Regions from separate parts of the Homo sapiens genome. Here regions 1, 2, 4 and 5 are each reported to be linked to region 3. Evidence: microRNA targets listed by miRTarBase, many of them from high-throughput screens and not tested one by one. Region 3 holds a microRNA gene; each other region holds the end of a gene's coding sequence. Distances are from middle to middle.

Region 1 (3,000 bases), 21 Mb from region 3:
TCAGCGCTCTGGAGTTGGAGCGGGCTTACAGTGAAATAGAACAACTGCAGGTGAGCTGAAGAGGAGCAGGTGGGCAGAGGACCGCAGTCAGAGGGTCAGAGAGAGCCTGAGATGTCCAGGCGTGCAATGAACGAGCAGCTGGCAGTGGGGCTGGGCTAGGCCCTGTATAATGGCAGGGCAGGAAGAGGCCGACCATACTTAAATTTAAAGCAACTACAGGGACAAAGGTCTTTGGGGGTCCAAAGCAATCATAAGGTAAGCTCCCAGCACAACTTGAATGCAGCTAAAGGGGTTTGCAAGTAGACTCTGAGGATCAGGAAGCTCCGCACAGTGTTCAGACAGAATAGTTTTAGCTCCTCCTCAATAGTGCCTGTCCACTGAGGAGGCAAAAACTCTGAAGTTTCTTTACTTCTAGAACTGTCCCAAGAAAGCCCAAGGGTAGAAGGGAGAATTCTCAAGTTGAACGTCAGGCTTGGCAGAGGTGGAGTGTAGATGAAAACAAAGGTGTGATTATGAAGAGGATGTGAGTCCTTTGGGTGTAGGAGAGAAAGGCTGTTGAGCTTCTATTTCAAGATACTTTTACCTGTGCAAAAAGCACATTTTCCACCTCCTTCTCATGGCATTTGTGTAAGGTGAGTATGATTCCTATTCCATCTGCATTTTAGAGGTGAAGAATAACGTACAAGGGATTCAGTGATTAGCAAGGGACCCCTCACTAAGTGTTGATGGAGTTAGGACAGAGCTCAGCTGTTTGAATCTCAGAGCCCAGGCAGCTGGAGCTGGGTAGGATCCTGGAGCTGGCACTAATGTGAGGTGCATTCCCTCCAACCCAGGCTCAGATCCGGAACCTGACCGTGCTGACCCCCGAAGGGGAGGCAGGGCTGAGCTGGCCCGTTGGGCTCCCTGCTCCTTTCACACCACACTCTCGCTTTGAGGTGCTGGGCTGGGACTACTTCACAGAGCAGCACACCTTCTCCTGTGCAGATGGGGCTCCCAAGTGCCCACTACAGGGGGCTAGCAGGGCGGACGTGGGTGATGCGTTGGAGACTGCCCTGGAGCAGCTCAATCGGCGCTATCAGCCCCGCCTGCGCTTCCAGAAGCAGCGACTGCTCAACGGCTATCGGCGCTTCGACCCAGCACGGGGCATGGAGTACACCCTGGACCTGCTGTTGGAATGTGTGACACAGCGTGGGCACCGGCGGGCCCTGGCTCGCAGGGTCAGCCTGCTGCGGCCACTGAGCCGGGTGGAAATCCTACCTATGCCCTATGTCACTGAGGCCACCCGAGTGCAGCTGGTGCTGCCACTCCTGGTGGCTGAAGCTGCTGCAGCCCCGGCTTTCCTCGAGGCCTTTGCAGCCAATGTCCTGGAGCCACGAGAACATGCATTGCTCACCCTGTTGCTGGTCTACGGGCCACGAGAAGGTGGCCGTGGAGCTCCAGACCCATTTCTTGGGGTGAAGGCTGCAGCAGCGGAGTTAGAGCGACGGTACCCTGGGACGAGGCTGGCCTGGCTCGCTGTGCGAGCAGAGGCCCCTTCCCAGGTGCGACTCATGGACGTGGTCTCGAAGAAGCACCCTGTGGACACTCTCTTCTTCCTTACCACCGTGTGGACAAGGCCTGGGCCCGAAGTCCTCAACCGCTGTCGCATGAATGCCATCTCTGGCTGGCAGGCCTTCTTTCCAGTCCATTTCCAGGAGTTCAATCCTGCCCTGTCACCACAGAGATCACCCCCAGGGCCCCCGGGGGCTGGCCCTGACCCCCCCTCCCCTCCTGGTGCTGACCCCTCCCGGGGGGCTCCTATAGGGGGGAGATTTGACCGGCAGGCTTCTGCGGAGGGCTGCTTCTACAACGCTGACTACCTGGCGGCCCGAGCCCGGCTGGCAGGTGAACTGGCAGGCCAGGAAGAGGAGGAAGCCCTGGAGGGGCTGGAGGTGATGGATGTTTTCCTCCGGTTCTCAGGGCTCCACCTCTTTCGGGCCGTAGAGCCAGGGCTGGTGCAGAAGTTCTCCCTGCGAGACTGCAGCCCACGGCTCAGTGAAGAACTCTACCACCGCTGCCGCCTCAGCAACCTGGAGGGGCTAGGGGGCCGTGCCCAGCTGGCTATGGCTCTCTTTGAGCAGGAGCAGGCCAATAGCACTTAGCCCGCCTGGGGGCCCTAACCTCATTACCTTTCCTTTGTCTGCCTCAGCCCCAGGAAGGGCAAGGCAAGATGGTGGACAGATAGAGAATTGTTGCTGTATTTTTTAAATATGAAAATGTTATTAAACATGTCTTCTGCCAAACTGTTTTTAGGTCTAGGGAAAATTGAGTAAGGAGAAGAATCCAAGGGAAGGGAATGGGGAGTCGTCCCGAGGGACCCACTGCCTCCCCACCTTCTTCCCTTCCCCTTCTCTCCCCCTCCCCTCCCCAGTTTCCAATGACCACACGGCTGCTGTCAGATGAATGACTTTTAATCCAGCCCCACACCCCAAGGTGGCAGAGGAGTGATGCTGGAGCCCGGGGCAAAATGCTGGGGCCCGGGACACGGCTGAAAGTTCCGTCGTGCTGCTTATTTTTGGGCTCCTAGGTGTTGCGCACAACCAGCGACTGCTCCAGCTCCTGCCTGCGCTGCTGGATCTTTAGAGGAAGTGAGAACAGGAGCAGGTGTCAGTGTTCTGGTGAGTGATCAGGACAATCCCACCTACTGACACCGCCTGCCCTGAAAGAGCATCTGGGAGCAGGGAGGGCCATTGCATGGTGAGGCAGCGTGGTGAAGCTTTACTGTGGGGAGCTGCGAGGGCTGCCCACAAGCTGAACAGGGAGGTTTCTCTTGGAGTTGAGGATGGGGAAGCCTCAGGGCAAGGGTCCCTGCATACCTTGCAGTAGAAGTAGCGACTGACGGCCTCCTGGGACCAGGGCTGGTGGTAGAACTCAGCCCGGCGCTCCTCTTCAGGGTTGCCGGCTACATCTGTCATCACCTGGGAGGGAGCGTGGGGTGAGCCCTGAGCCCTGAATCCCCTC
Region 2 (3,000 bases), not on the chromosome of region 3:
GATTCAATGACATCTAATGACCTTAATAAGAAATTTTATTCTTATGGGGGCCCTTGACTTAGGGATAATTTCTCTTTTATATGTTTTTGATATGGCAGGCTAATGTATCATTTTGTTCTTTTATTCCACAAACGCAGCAAATTCTAAGCCTAGGCCTGAGCAACTCAGTCTTTCTCAATCACATACAAACTGTGAATGTTGCTATGACTTACTGTAATTTATTTTTGTATATGCTATATTGATTTATGAATGGTATTTACGCATATACTTCATGACATAAAGCCAGTAGAGAACAAATAAGCATGGATACAGTAAGTATAAATATAAATTTCCATATGATTTATTGTTGTTCCTTGTACATAAGAAACAGTAATATACAACTTACACTGCTTTAGAATGTAAAATGGATAAAAATGTGTACAAAAAAAAGCACATTCCTAGAAAAAGGTATTGGCAAATAGTAAAAATGGGAGGTCAAAAGCAAAAAAAAAAAAAAAAAAAAACAAAACAAAAAAAAGAAAAAACCAACAATTCTTCAATTCAGTGTGCAAACATTATATAAAAATAGAAATACTAACTCTACAGGCAGTATTTCCTGATAAATTATTTAAATAGCATATCTACACAATCTGAGATATCTATTCCAATGGCAATGAGAAAATAATTTATAAAAATAAAGCAATGGTATACCAGATGATAGAAAAAAAACATAACTTTCAGAAATTGTATTTAACATTTCAATGCTATTTCCTTATTGGGAATACTTCTCTGCAGAGTTTTTATGCTATGTACAACACTGACTTTTTAGGTACTACAGTAGCTTTAAGTTTGTTAGACACTTAAACTCTTTCCGCTTGATCCAAAAATTCTTTACTCAGTCACACAACAAATGAGGTAATATTTGTATGTAAGTTTCACCTTTTGTCATTTTTTTCTCTTTTGGAAAAATGAAAGAAAAAAGTGTATATGCTTTCCTTCTCCCTGGAAATATGCACAAGGGATGGGGTAAAACAGTATTGAAGACCTCATGGCTTTCTTTGCAATTTAAAACATTTGCAAATGGATAACCAACTAATTCCACTTGAAAAGATAAAACAGAGAAAAAAAGAATCCCATAACATCCACTCTGAGCACAAGGGGCAGAGCAGCTTATTAGACTGATTTTCCTTGTGCTGTTCTTGCAAGAGATTTGCTGATAAATGTCAACTACTTGCTCTCAAACACTTTCCGTATGAAGCCTAAATTTCCAGGCAGAACAGAGTTAATAAATAATCTGTATTTACAATCTTACAGTCACGAAGACTCTCAACAAAGATGACATGGATAGTCTTTACGCTTCTTCCTGTTCCATGAATAATCCTTCAGCCAGATCTTCCAGAATAAGTAAAAAATAAATATTTTACATCGTAAAGCATTTAAAAAAAATCTACATTCCAAAAGAGAGAATTAGAAAACTCCATGATAATTCAGGAAAAAAGAGAAAAGGAATGTTTTAGTTAGGTTGATAATAATTTTGTGCCATTGTAACCATAAAAATATAAGCACGGCTGCCCCTCCTTTGGGAGGCAGCTGGTGCTCACTGAGATGGTAGGTTTTCCTATTTTCCTGCTACATCTGCACAAGCTACATCTAGAATGAAGCCACCAATTTCAATGTGACCAGGCAATGGCAGCCAGCACTGCCTTACACTGGTTTGATTCTGATTCCCTAATTCTGGCCACTGCAGGTGATGAGTAAGGGTGGGGATCAGGGAGGAAGTCCAGAAGCCAGTCTTTGTCTCCCTTTCCTGCTTCTATTTAAGTGCCTATTTACATGGGTTAATCAGCTAACGCCAGTCAGCATCATGAAATCCAGCAATAGTCTTTCAATCCCCTGAAAATGACTTAGTACCGAACATGTAACAGTTCCTCCATATTTTCTTCATACAATCGTCTCGGGTATGCGCCCTCCCCTTAGTGCTTTGGCCTCTGCTCCCCGTGTTCCTGAAGGAGGATGTCAGGGTGGTTTTGTTTGCTAATTCTAGTGAGTCCTCCCTTCTCTGACATGCCTGAAAATGCTTTTGAGTCCACTGCTCAGAGATGGCCTCACAATAGCACCCTGCTCTGTGACAAAGGCAGAGTGGAATGGGCACCTTCCCAACTGAAGCAAGTAGATGCTTTTTCAAAAGGAAACCAAAGCAATTGTTTATATGCTTGGAAGATGTCTTATTCATTGGAGGCTGAATGCTGAGTCTGTTTTTGAAAACTGCATTTTCTTGAGGCAGGTCGCACGTTCTAGGAGTCCACACTGATGCAAGCACAGAAAAGAAGGAAGCCAAGGAGAAGTGATCCTGGGGGTTTTCTCAAGCCCATAGTTCCAGAAGGTGCAATACCAGCATTGGTTTATGATCAGTCTTTCAATCAACAATTTGATGATTAGGGATCTGTTAAATAAACAAATATAAATAAATATACAAATGAAAACTAATTCATAAAAGCATAGACATCTTAGTTAATAAGTTAACCACATAGGAATAGCTCTACTTTTCTAATGACAAAAGCCTAATTTTAAGGTTGTTCAAGCACATTAGCATTTAATTTTATTAGCTGACATTGATGCTAGGAGACCGACACAGCGTGAACCTTCCAGAACATATATTATGCTTTCCAAAGGCTTTCAATGTTAACAGTTTAGGGAGTCTTATTTTAAAAATTTGGACTCAAAAATTACATTAATAATTTAGATTTTTTTGAGTAAAATCAACCATCTTTCTCTACTGTCATTGATCTTTTAGGTATCTGGCCTTGGCCCAGTAAATATATATTAAGCACTTATTTTGTGGTAGAGCCAGTGTTGGACTCAGCGAGCTTAAGTAATGACTAAGTAAAAAAGAATGAGGAAAAAAAATGCTAAGTTTAATAGTGAACATTAATTTAACATGCCAATATGAAAGCAACATTCCTCTCCCTTCTTTGTATACAGGGAAAAGTTGGGAATGCTAACTCGTGCTGTGATGGCATG
Region 3 (3,151 bases):
CCAACTCCTCCTTTCATTCTGCACACAGCCACAAGAGCCATCCAACCAGAACACACATCTGATCACACCCCCTCTGGCTGCGTGGCTCCCATGGTCCTTAGGTTCGGGAACAAATGCAGCCTTAAGATGGCCAGCCTTCCAGCCCGGCATAGACCCCAGGAAATCTGTGTGCTCTCCAACAGGAGTCTCCTCCTCTCCCTGAGGGTCACTCATCTTCCAGGACTCCCCACCCCTCCCTGTGTCCCAGCAGGTGCCGTGTGGCCCTAGCTCAGAGCAGCCTTCTTCATGCCCTGCAGAGCCAGCCTGTTTACGCAGCGTCTGCTTGTGCTCACGGCATGTAACATGCATAGTGCAGCCTGCGGGAGAACAGTTCCCTTCTCTTTCTGTCTCAAGAGCTGCCGGCTCAGACCTTCCCTACTCGGCCTGTGTCTCCCCAAAAGAGCGCAGTGAGCTGCACGGAGCCGGTTGAGCCTGGAGCCACCAGATAGATGTCTGCCCCGCCCTGCCCAGCCACAGGGGTTGGTGGGTCATGGAACCACACATGACCCTCCGAGGGCAGGTGAGGAGAAAGGAGGGCTGATGGGGGCTGATAGAAGGGGTTTGGGGGATGGGGAGCACCAGAGAAGGAAGGCTGGCAGGCCGAGGGCTGGGGAGCAGGGGATAGGCCTTCACATTTGCATTTGCACCGTTCACTGCGGGCTAGGCCACACTCACACACACACTTACACCTGCACCCACACCCTCTCAACCACACGCGCAGCTCCCACTCTGGCTCCTGAGCCATCTGCAGGCCAGGAGACTCCAGGGCCGGGCTTCCCCAGCAGGTCTGCCCACCAAGCCCAACTCTCTGGGAAGTGCCACTCACTCTGACCCTGTGGCCCGGCTCCGGCTCAGGGGAGCTCCCACTGCAAACACAAGCTCTGGGAAGGTGAGTGGAGGCTTTGTCTCAGGTTCTGAGGCGTCAGGAGGAACAAATCCATGAAGTGGAATGCTGGAGGCATAGAGGTCCAGCCCATGGGCCACCTGCACCCCAGGGGGCCAGTCCCGCATTTACACAAGTGACTTGTACACTCTCCTCCTGCACATCTCTGGAGGCTTATCCCATCTGGCCCTCCATGGCCTCAGCAGGATCACTGGATGTCCGTGATGCACGGCGTGCCCTCCCTGCCCTCATCCTCCCAGCCAGCAGCCCAGGAAGGAACCACTCTTAGTGACCTGTGGAAGGTTAGGAGACCCTCCCTCGGGGCCCTAGAGCCCACCCTGAACAGGGCCTTTCAGGGGAGAGGGTGAGAAGGTTCACCACCCAGAGGAGCCAGGCCAAAGCCCTGAAACCAAACATCCCCCAGTTCCCTCACTCCTCGATTCAGACTCCAGGGCCACAGCCTGGAGCAGAGCTGGACCCCAGCTCCTCTTGGCAGCACCCCTGAGGGCCAGAGAACGGCTTCCCAGCTGACTTGAGGACCTGTGACCTCAGGGGGATGCAGGGAAACACAGAGTGTCACTTCCAGCTGCACCTGCCCTCTGCCACTACCCAGCAGTCCGGGACCTGAGTCCCCTCCTTCCTCGCGGAGAACAGCAGGTCCAGCATGGCCGGCCCTTCCCTCGCTGGCTGTGCACAGGGTGCCGGCTGAGTCCTCGCCCCATAGTTGGCAAGTCTAGAACCACCGGATCCTGTTACCTCACCAGTGTGAGTTCTACCATTGCCAAAAACGGGGGGAGGCAAGCAGCTCCCCCCAGGAGCTGGGGAGGCCTCGGTCTGTGCTGAGGAAGAGACAGAGACAGTTAGGATGGTCCAGGCAGGGCCAGGACAGAGGCGCCCATCCCCGCAACTGCGACAAGGTCCTTCCTGCAGGGTCGCCCTGGTGTGGAGGCCCAACCCCACAGTCCCCCTTCCTGCTGGTCCCGGTCCCTCCTCAGCCCCCTCCTCTCCTCCCTTCCCCTCATATCTGTAACCTGCAGTTCCTGTGGGCAGGCATGGAGCAGACACCATCCCTAGGGCAGCCACCAGGATCCAACCCAGGCCCTGAGCTGTGGTCACCACTCCCAAGGGAACCCGAGGGCACCTCCACTCCCAGCACCTGACAGCAGGGACTCTGGGAACCAGCACAAGCCAGGCCAGAGAGCCCTGCCCCTGGGCGCTGGGGAAGAGATGGCTAATGTGGGCTGGGTTTTGCTATTTACTAAGCCCACGTCACTGCTCCATTTAATCCAGAGAGATGCTCCCAAGCCATTCCCTAGAGCCTAAAGCTCACAGGCTGCCCACCCCAAAGGGAGAGAGGGAAGTTGCTACACAAAACATTCCTCCTCCCTATCAAGTCCAAGGGAGGAAGAGCATTCCACTTGCCAAGGCCTCTTCCCTAAAAGCAGTGGACAAACAATGGCGCTGGGACCTTCTACCCAGGAACGGGAACAGGCAGCCTCTGGGGCCATCAGTCAGTGGCAGGAATGGGCCAAGCTAAAACCAACCAAATATCTCCCATCCAGACGGCACTCTCCTGACCACAGAACCCACTGCACACACCCAGCAGCCCTGCACACACCCAGACCCTTTGAGGGCTGGCTGCGATCTGATTCTCGGAGTGGCATTTCCCCAGACCGCCAGTCACTTACCCAAGGGCAGCACACTTCCGTGTTCCCACTTCCCCTGATGAGGCCAGGTCCTTTCCCAAGGGGTGTTGAAGTGTCCTGAAGGCATCTCAAGCCTTTAGCAAGGGTGCAGGCTGCCTGCCCCCAACCCTGCATCCCCATGCCTCCCCTGCAGCCTGGAAGGGACTCTTTGCCCTCAAGCCTCCTGGGCAGTATGGGCCCACCATGAGCAGGCTCATTTTCCGAACATGCCCCGGCTGGGGGAGCAGCTGACTTGGCAGGGCCCCCAAAATGACACCGCTGCCGCCGCCACCGCCACCACCCCTCCCATCCTGCCTGCCCTTTAGGGTGGAGTGAGATGGGATGATGGCTTAAGATGCAAACAGATCCAGGCCATCCCCAGGGCCAAGTCCAGGACCTCGGTGGCACCCAGACCGGACCGGCAGCCTGGGCTTGGGCGCTGGGGAGGACACCTCTGCCCGAAAGGAGAGGCTTGGTGGGGAAGGTTTGGCCTCTGAGCAGAGGCACGACTCTGGAAGCCTCTCCGAGGGTGGGCGGGCCTGCT
Region 4 (3,000 bases), not on the chromosome of region 3:
CTACTATAAAAGTATTTATTCTGTTGTTGGCTTAGCCACTTGTATTCAAGCATTATTTGCAGCATTGCTTTACAGCAGTTGGTGCTAGAAGATACAAAACATATAGTTACCACTATTTATACTTGAGGGAGAAAAAAAACTTTAAACAACCCTGAGGGAGACACACATTAAAAATCTTGTTATTTATTTAAAAAGTTAAAAAGTTACATATCATTATTTAACAATTACTTTCCCAGACATTTCTGTCCTTTAAGTATGTGCATAAATAAAATTTAAATCAGCAATATTCATCTTAATACATCAAAATAATATATGTACAGATTTTAAAATTTAGGTCTGTATAAACTCAAATAATTTAATGTGAAATTCAGAATCAAAATTACTATGTAATGGTAACCTACGAGAGAAGACTCAGTCTATCTATGGCACTGAGTAGAACCCACACCTGGCTTCACAGGCATTCTTCAAATAACATTCTCAACGTGAATAACCCACCTTGTCTATATTCAAATCTAACTTCCTACAAATGCTTTTCCAGCCACCTAAACACCTCATTCCTTTGAAAACAATATGGACAGAAGAGATATAAAACCCTTACTAACTCTAAATGTTAAAAAAGTGGGGGGGGGGTGTCAAAAATAGCTCTTTATGATCATGCTCTTAAAGATGTTAAATACAATCGGATAATTGAATTTTTAAGCTGCTACTTAGCAATTACTTTCATTATATGCTTCAGTACTTAAACCAAAGAATAAAATGCACAATTGTGGAAATCACTGAAGAATAACACGAGCATATTTGAAATTAATATGGAAATTATAAAATGATCCAGAGAATAAGTAACTATAGAAAATAGTGCTAATTCACAGCTCAAGAGGTCTAAGATGCATAGCTTCATAGAATCATTCATGGAACAACTGTTATCATCTAATGTGTATTAATAGCATATTATACATTTGATGGAAAACTTCGATTATATTTTTGCAGGAATCATCAGTGGCAATAGCAGTAACAGTGATCCTGAGTGTAATTTCTATTTTTCTATAGTTACCAAACATCATCCAGGTCTTTGCAGCATAAAGAGTGAGAACCATTTGGTCCTAAAATTCTAGGTAAAATTTGGTAAATTTGTAAATATATGTTGGGAAAAGAATGATCAGCTAGAAGTAGAAAGCACGAGCAAGCATGTTACTGGCTCTGGAAGAACAGAGAACAATGTCACACTGTTTTCATAGTTTAGCGTCCATTTTATAGCACGATCAGTTTTCTGTGTTGTGGTAACTGTGGGCGTTGCCAGACTGCTGGATCCACCTATAAAAGGTGTTTTTTAAAAGTTACCTTAATTTTGGCAAGAATTTAAATGTTAATCAGGCCAAACAGAAAGGTGAAAAATGTTTCTCCACATCTCTTTTGGCTCAATGAATGTCAATTTTTTAACTTTATTTCCTCAATTTTTTTTCTCCCAGAAATTTCCGCATCAAATATGCTCATTTGTAACGATCCAATTCAAAATAGACATGTTCTGACCTCTGGCGCCACCTAATGGCATAAAACAAACTCATCAAATTCATATTGCTTTGAAAAAACGGCAGCCATTCAAATCCAGTATTTTTTAAGCCTCATTATTGATAAGACAGAGACATACATCAAACCTCAAAAAATTTTATGAGGTAAAATTCTAACTTAAAAAAAACTATTATCCTATGTCTTTAGGTAATTGAAAACATAGAAGAAAATTTTAAAAAACCATTTAAAATAACACAAAGCCTGACAGAAACAAATTTGAAGAAACGTTAAAAGATGAATCTACATCTACTGCCGAAAGAAATGAATCTTATTTCCTAGTGAAAAAGGTTCTACAACATTTAACAGAAGCAAATTAGACTGCCAACACCACACATAGCACAGGAGCCATTTAAGAGCTTTGAGAGGCGTCTCAAGAAGGCAGTGAAGCACCTTGCTGATTAGAAAAATAAAACCCAGGCAGTTTGTACAGAAAATATAAAACCAGAAATGGAGATTACCTGAGTTGTTCTATAAGCAACACCATAAACACTCATTCCTAACTCTAGACCATCATAGGGAATTGGCATATGTTTATACAGAATTCTTTGGAAGAAACATTGGAATCAAATGAAAACAGGCTTTCAGTATATTTTCACTGGAGGCTAATTAACACTCATCTTCTTTTTATCAATCACAAACTTACAGCCTGTATATAAACACAGACTTTTCTAACAAGAGGGTTGTGAGCATAAATGTGAAGAGGTAAACTAGTCTCAAAAACTAATGTTGAAAAACCTACCAAACACCAAACTTCTCCTGTACCCAATATAAAGAATATCACTGAAAGTAACAATCAAGAAAATTCTGGAAATGTATGTAATATTTGGGTTGCTGAATGAAGATATAGGACTTTATGGATTGATTGTTAATTTAACTGTTAGGACGATATATTTTTCTGTTTTTATTTTAAGGAAGAGCAAAGCTGTCAAATAAGCTACTATATCAGAAGGGACATAAACTGAACTAGTGCCATTCTGACACACAGGATCAGAAACTCCTAAAATCACATATTCCTGAATACTGCTATCAGCAATACCACTGAGACTGATTCACTGCTATGTTATGGTGATGATTTGACATGATCCATTCTCCTTAACTAAAGCTTTAGCTTCTGTGGTTGTCTGAGGTTTTGGTGGCCATTCTGGATCAACCAAGAGCTCCTGCGCCAGATACATGTACTTTGCCTTTGGTGTCTTCTTTCTACAGCCCAGGGCCCAGGGTAAGCAGCATTTTCCCCACCGATCCACTGACTCCTAAGAAAATAAGAAAAAAACAAAACAAAACACCCCAGTTGATTAAAGGCTTGTCGTTTTAAACAGGTTTGTTAAAGCACACATTAGCAGAGAAAAATAAGAGGAAATGACTTCTGAGCACAACGAATGGGGGAAAAAAAAATCCATGTTAAAAAAAGGCAGCTTTGGCCGGGCGTGGTGG
Region 5 (3,000 bases), not on the chromosome of region 3:
GAGACTTTGCCAACTAAGAGGTAGTTACTTATTTTTGCCAAAGAAAAAAGTTCTACAGATATTTTCAGACATTTGAGCCAGTGGGGTTTAAAAAAAGTCTTGTCCTTAATTGCTTGTGCATTGGTAGATCCTTGTTTCATCAAAATTTGTTTGCAAGATCTTTTAATACTCATCCATTCATTCAACAACTATTTATGCAGCTCCCATTGTACAGCAGGCACTATGCTAGGTGTTGGGATTCAGTGGTGAGCGGAAAAAGGCCAAGGGTCCTCAAATTGTGGTTCCTACAATTTGGTGGAGGAAGATATAGAATTATTAAATAATCAGACAAATTAATGAGAACTTACAACTCCATTAAGTGCTCTAAATTAGAGAACCTGGTGCTATAAGACCATCTAAAAGGGGATCTGACCGAGGTAAGGAGGTCAGGGAAGCTTCCCTAAGGAAGTGGCAATTGCATTGATATGTGCATGAGTAAGAGCTAAAACTGAATTCCATGCAGAGGAACTATTAGGTGCTAAGGTCCTGTGAGGCCAGTGGGCATGGCACCTGCTAGGAAAGTAGGACAGTGTGGCTTAGCAGAAAGAGCTGGGAGAAATGTGGTAGAGTCAAGGTTGGAACAAAAGGAGGGGTCAAGCCATGCAGGTGTTAGGCCATATTAGAGATACTGTCTTTATCCTAATTGTTTGCAAAACCTGTCAAGGTGTTTATAAGCAACTGGAGACAAGATCAGATTTGTCTTGAAGGGATCCCTAGAGTTAAAAGGCAGGAACACATTGGTGTGGGAGAGGGGGAAGAGTGGGTGAGAGGAGATGAGACTATTGCAGTAATCTAGGCATCAGATGGTGGTGTCTTTGATCAGAGTGGTAACAGAGAGTAGGCTGTAGAGAGGTTTGAAGTAAAATAAATGACTTGGTGACAAATAGGATGATATATGGCATGACTCCTGAGTTCCTCTGTTGGTCAAAATCTTTCCAAATTAAGGATTATGCTAGACCTGACACATTTATTCTCCAAAGAAATATTTGTTTCAATGACTCTTTGGATTCATTTATTCAATCAATATTTATGGAGCACCTATTATGTATTATTCTGGCTGCTGTGATACAGTAGACAAGGCAGTCTCTCTAATAGAGCTTGTGTCTGTTGGTGCCAGAAACTCTGGCTAAGGTGAAAATTAGTGCAATCACAATGGAAACAGTAAACTACTGGAGGTCAATTTTTCTTCTGGCAAATCAGAAAAAAAATGTTCTTAGTGCTTTATGATTTCTAAAGTCCCTTACTACTTTATAAAACCAGAAAGGCAGGAAGGTCTAAAATGAAGAGTCAGAGAAGACAATGGGGACACCCAAGGTCACAAAGCTATGAGAAATGATTACTTTGCGTCAGTTCTTCCAACTCTAAAATCAGGGTTCCTCCTCCTTTTTTATTAAGACCATAATCAAGGACATTGAAAAAAACAGCCTGCTGAGGAAGGGGTGCTTTTTAATTAGCCAGTTTGAAAACAGATTCAAGGGCTTCCTCTCTCAAGTGGAAAAAAGCACATTTCTGGATTTAAGTCTAAGAAACGAAAGCGCACTTCTTTTGACTTTATCATTACCTAAAGTAACAGATTCTTTGTTGGCCAAATGAAGGCATGAAAATCAGGAAAATTCTGAGATTTTCTATTGATACATTATGGAAGGGAACAATTTCAGGTATGTATCTTGGAAGCCCATGCTGGTACTTGTGGGGGAGCTTGGAACCAATGGAAAGTAAATAAAGACAGGCATACATTGACCTTATTTGGCTTCTTTCTTCATTTGAGAAGCTTAATTATGTGAATAATTTTTGTGCTTGTCTCCATTACATTTACTTCTCATATTTAGCTGGTACTTAGATACAGAATCCTTTAGATCAGTGTTTCATTAACAAGCTTGATTTTTTTTTAAGATTAGAAAGCATAAATGCAGTGGTTCTAAGGATGTGACTTCCTTAGGTCTGCATAATGCTTATAGGTTTTAAAAAAAGAATTATCTGTCTGCAACTATCATTTCTCAGTTCTGAAGACTGTCAATTCTCACTGGGCAGGCACAAAAACTGAAATGTCTTTTACTATAAAGATGTTTTCCCTTTATCTGCCACATTTCCAGTTATCAAAAATAAAATCACATCTAGACTCCAAGTGTTCAATATTATTTATCAAAATAAATTTATTAAAAGTATTCAAAGACCACTTCAAAGTGTAGCTGCCTTCAAGACAGATTTTTGGCACTCATAACGGACACTGCAGTTTTCAACACCATAGCACTCATTCTATTTCACACATCATTTTTAACAATGCAAACACGGACCATTTCAGTTTTAGCATTACATGAGACAACAGTACTGATGATCTGTGGTCATAAGAACTTCAATACCGTTGCACATAGTAAACACTTCACTGTTACTGAATCCTAAACTAAAACTACTATGTGGTAACATGGATCGATTTAGGGAAAGATGTACAACCAGCTACCTAAGGCCACATAATCCCAGATCTATTGATTTTAAATGCTTTTGGACCAACAGTATTACATTGTCTCTTTCATCATCTTACATTCCTGCTTTTCAGAGTGAGACACCACGTTCAGACCACCTATTCCCTTCTTGCGTTCTGTACACAGTGAGGGAAGCTGTTCTGATACCAGCTTCTCCTAGTCAGTTACTGGCTTCCTGATTCACTACCCAACTTTGAATCAATAGTTCTGAGTGATGTTTCCTGAACACCCAGGCTGAATTCAAGGTCAGTCTTTATGGCAGGTCACAGTCCTTCCCCTCAGGAAAAAGAATGAAATGTCCTCCATTTCTGGGCTCCCTTTTACATTTCATGTAGCATGAGGCTCTGTGGTGATTTGTGGCTTTTTACACAAGTCCTGGTAGAATTCTGACTCCAAGAAACGAGGATAAGAGTTGTTCTCCATCAAGCTGTATACCCTTTTCTGGGCAGTTGTAAAGCAGCCACTTGTAGCTTCTTGTATA

The links. The annotated mature microRNA hsa-miR-182-5p reads UUUGGCAAUGGUAGAACUCACACU and lies in region 3 at 1,685-1,708, opposite strand. An mRNA with a match to its seed (bases 2 to 7 or 8) in the 3' UTR can be bound and repressed. Matches are read on the target gene's strand: a 7mer-m8 pairs with bases 2 to 8, a 7mer-A1 pairs with bases 2 to 7 and ends in A, and an 8mer does both.
Region 1: miRTarBase lists SMARCD3 as a target of hsa-miR-182-5p. The part of its 3' UTR that is shown has no 7-base or 8-base seed match.
Region 2: miRTarBase lists THBS1 as a target of hsa-miR-182-5p. Seed matches in the 3' UTR shown: 7mer-m8 at 451-457.
Region 4: miRTarBase lists ATP13A3 as a target of hsa-miR-182-5p. Seed matches in the 3' UTR shown: 8mer at 1,345-1,352.
Region 5: the mRNA of RGS2 is a reported target of hsa-miR-182-5p. Seed matches in the 3' UTR shown: 7mer-A1 at 2,247-2,253.

Annotation. Positions count from the first base shown.
Region 1 is chr7:151,236,541-151,239,540 of GRCh38, forward strand. SMARCD3 (SWI/SNF related BAF chromatin remodeling complex subunit D3) reads right to left here. Exons shown (of 13, transcript NM_001003801.2): 12 at 2,856-2,957; 13 at 2,240-2,616. The coding sequence ends at 2,563. It overlaps CHPF2 (chondroitin polymerizing factor 2), which reads left to right. Exons shown (of 4, transcript NM_019015.3): 3 at 1-50; 4 at 834-2,282. The coding sequence ends at 2,141. It overlaps MIR671 (microRNA 671), which reads left to right and starts at 1,881; the gene lies at 1,881-1,998.
Region 2 is chr15:39,594,784-39,597,783 of GRCh38, reverse strand. THBS1 (thrombospondin 1) reads right to left here. Exons shown (of 22, transcript NM_003246.4): 22 at 1-2,422. The coding sequence ends at 2,415. It also overlaps a transcript of FSIP1 not described here. Among named protein-coding and RNA genes, the nearest start is that of THBS1-IT1, 10 kb to the right of the region's middle.
Region 3 is chr7:129,768,763-129,771,913 of GRCh38, forward strand. MIR182 (microRNA 182) reads right to left here and starts at 1,730; the gene lies at 1,621-1,730. It overlaps LOC105375501 (a long non-coding RNA gene), which reads right to left and starts at 443. Exons shown (of 3, transcript XR_927963.4): 1 at 1-443. RefSeq lists an enhancer at 1,881-2,744.
Region 4 is chr3:194,403,298-194,406,297 of GRCh38, forward strand. It overlaps ATP13A3 (ATPase 13A3), which reads right to left. Exons shown (of 34, transcript NM_001367549.1): 34 at 1-2,819. The coding sequence ends at 2,622. Among named protein-coding and RNA genes, the nearest start is that of GP5, 5.5 kb to the left of the region's middle.
Region 5 is chr1:192,811,443-192,814,442 of GRCh38, reverse strand. It overlaps RGS2 (regulator of G protein signaling 2), which reads right to left. Exons shown (of 5, transcript NM_002923.4): 5 at 2,168-3,000. The coding sequence ends at 2,847. Among named protein-coding and RNA genes, the nearest start is that of RGS2, 3.9 kb to the right of the region's middle.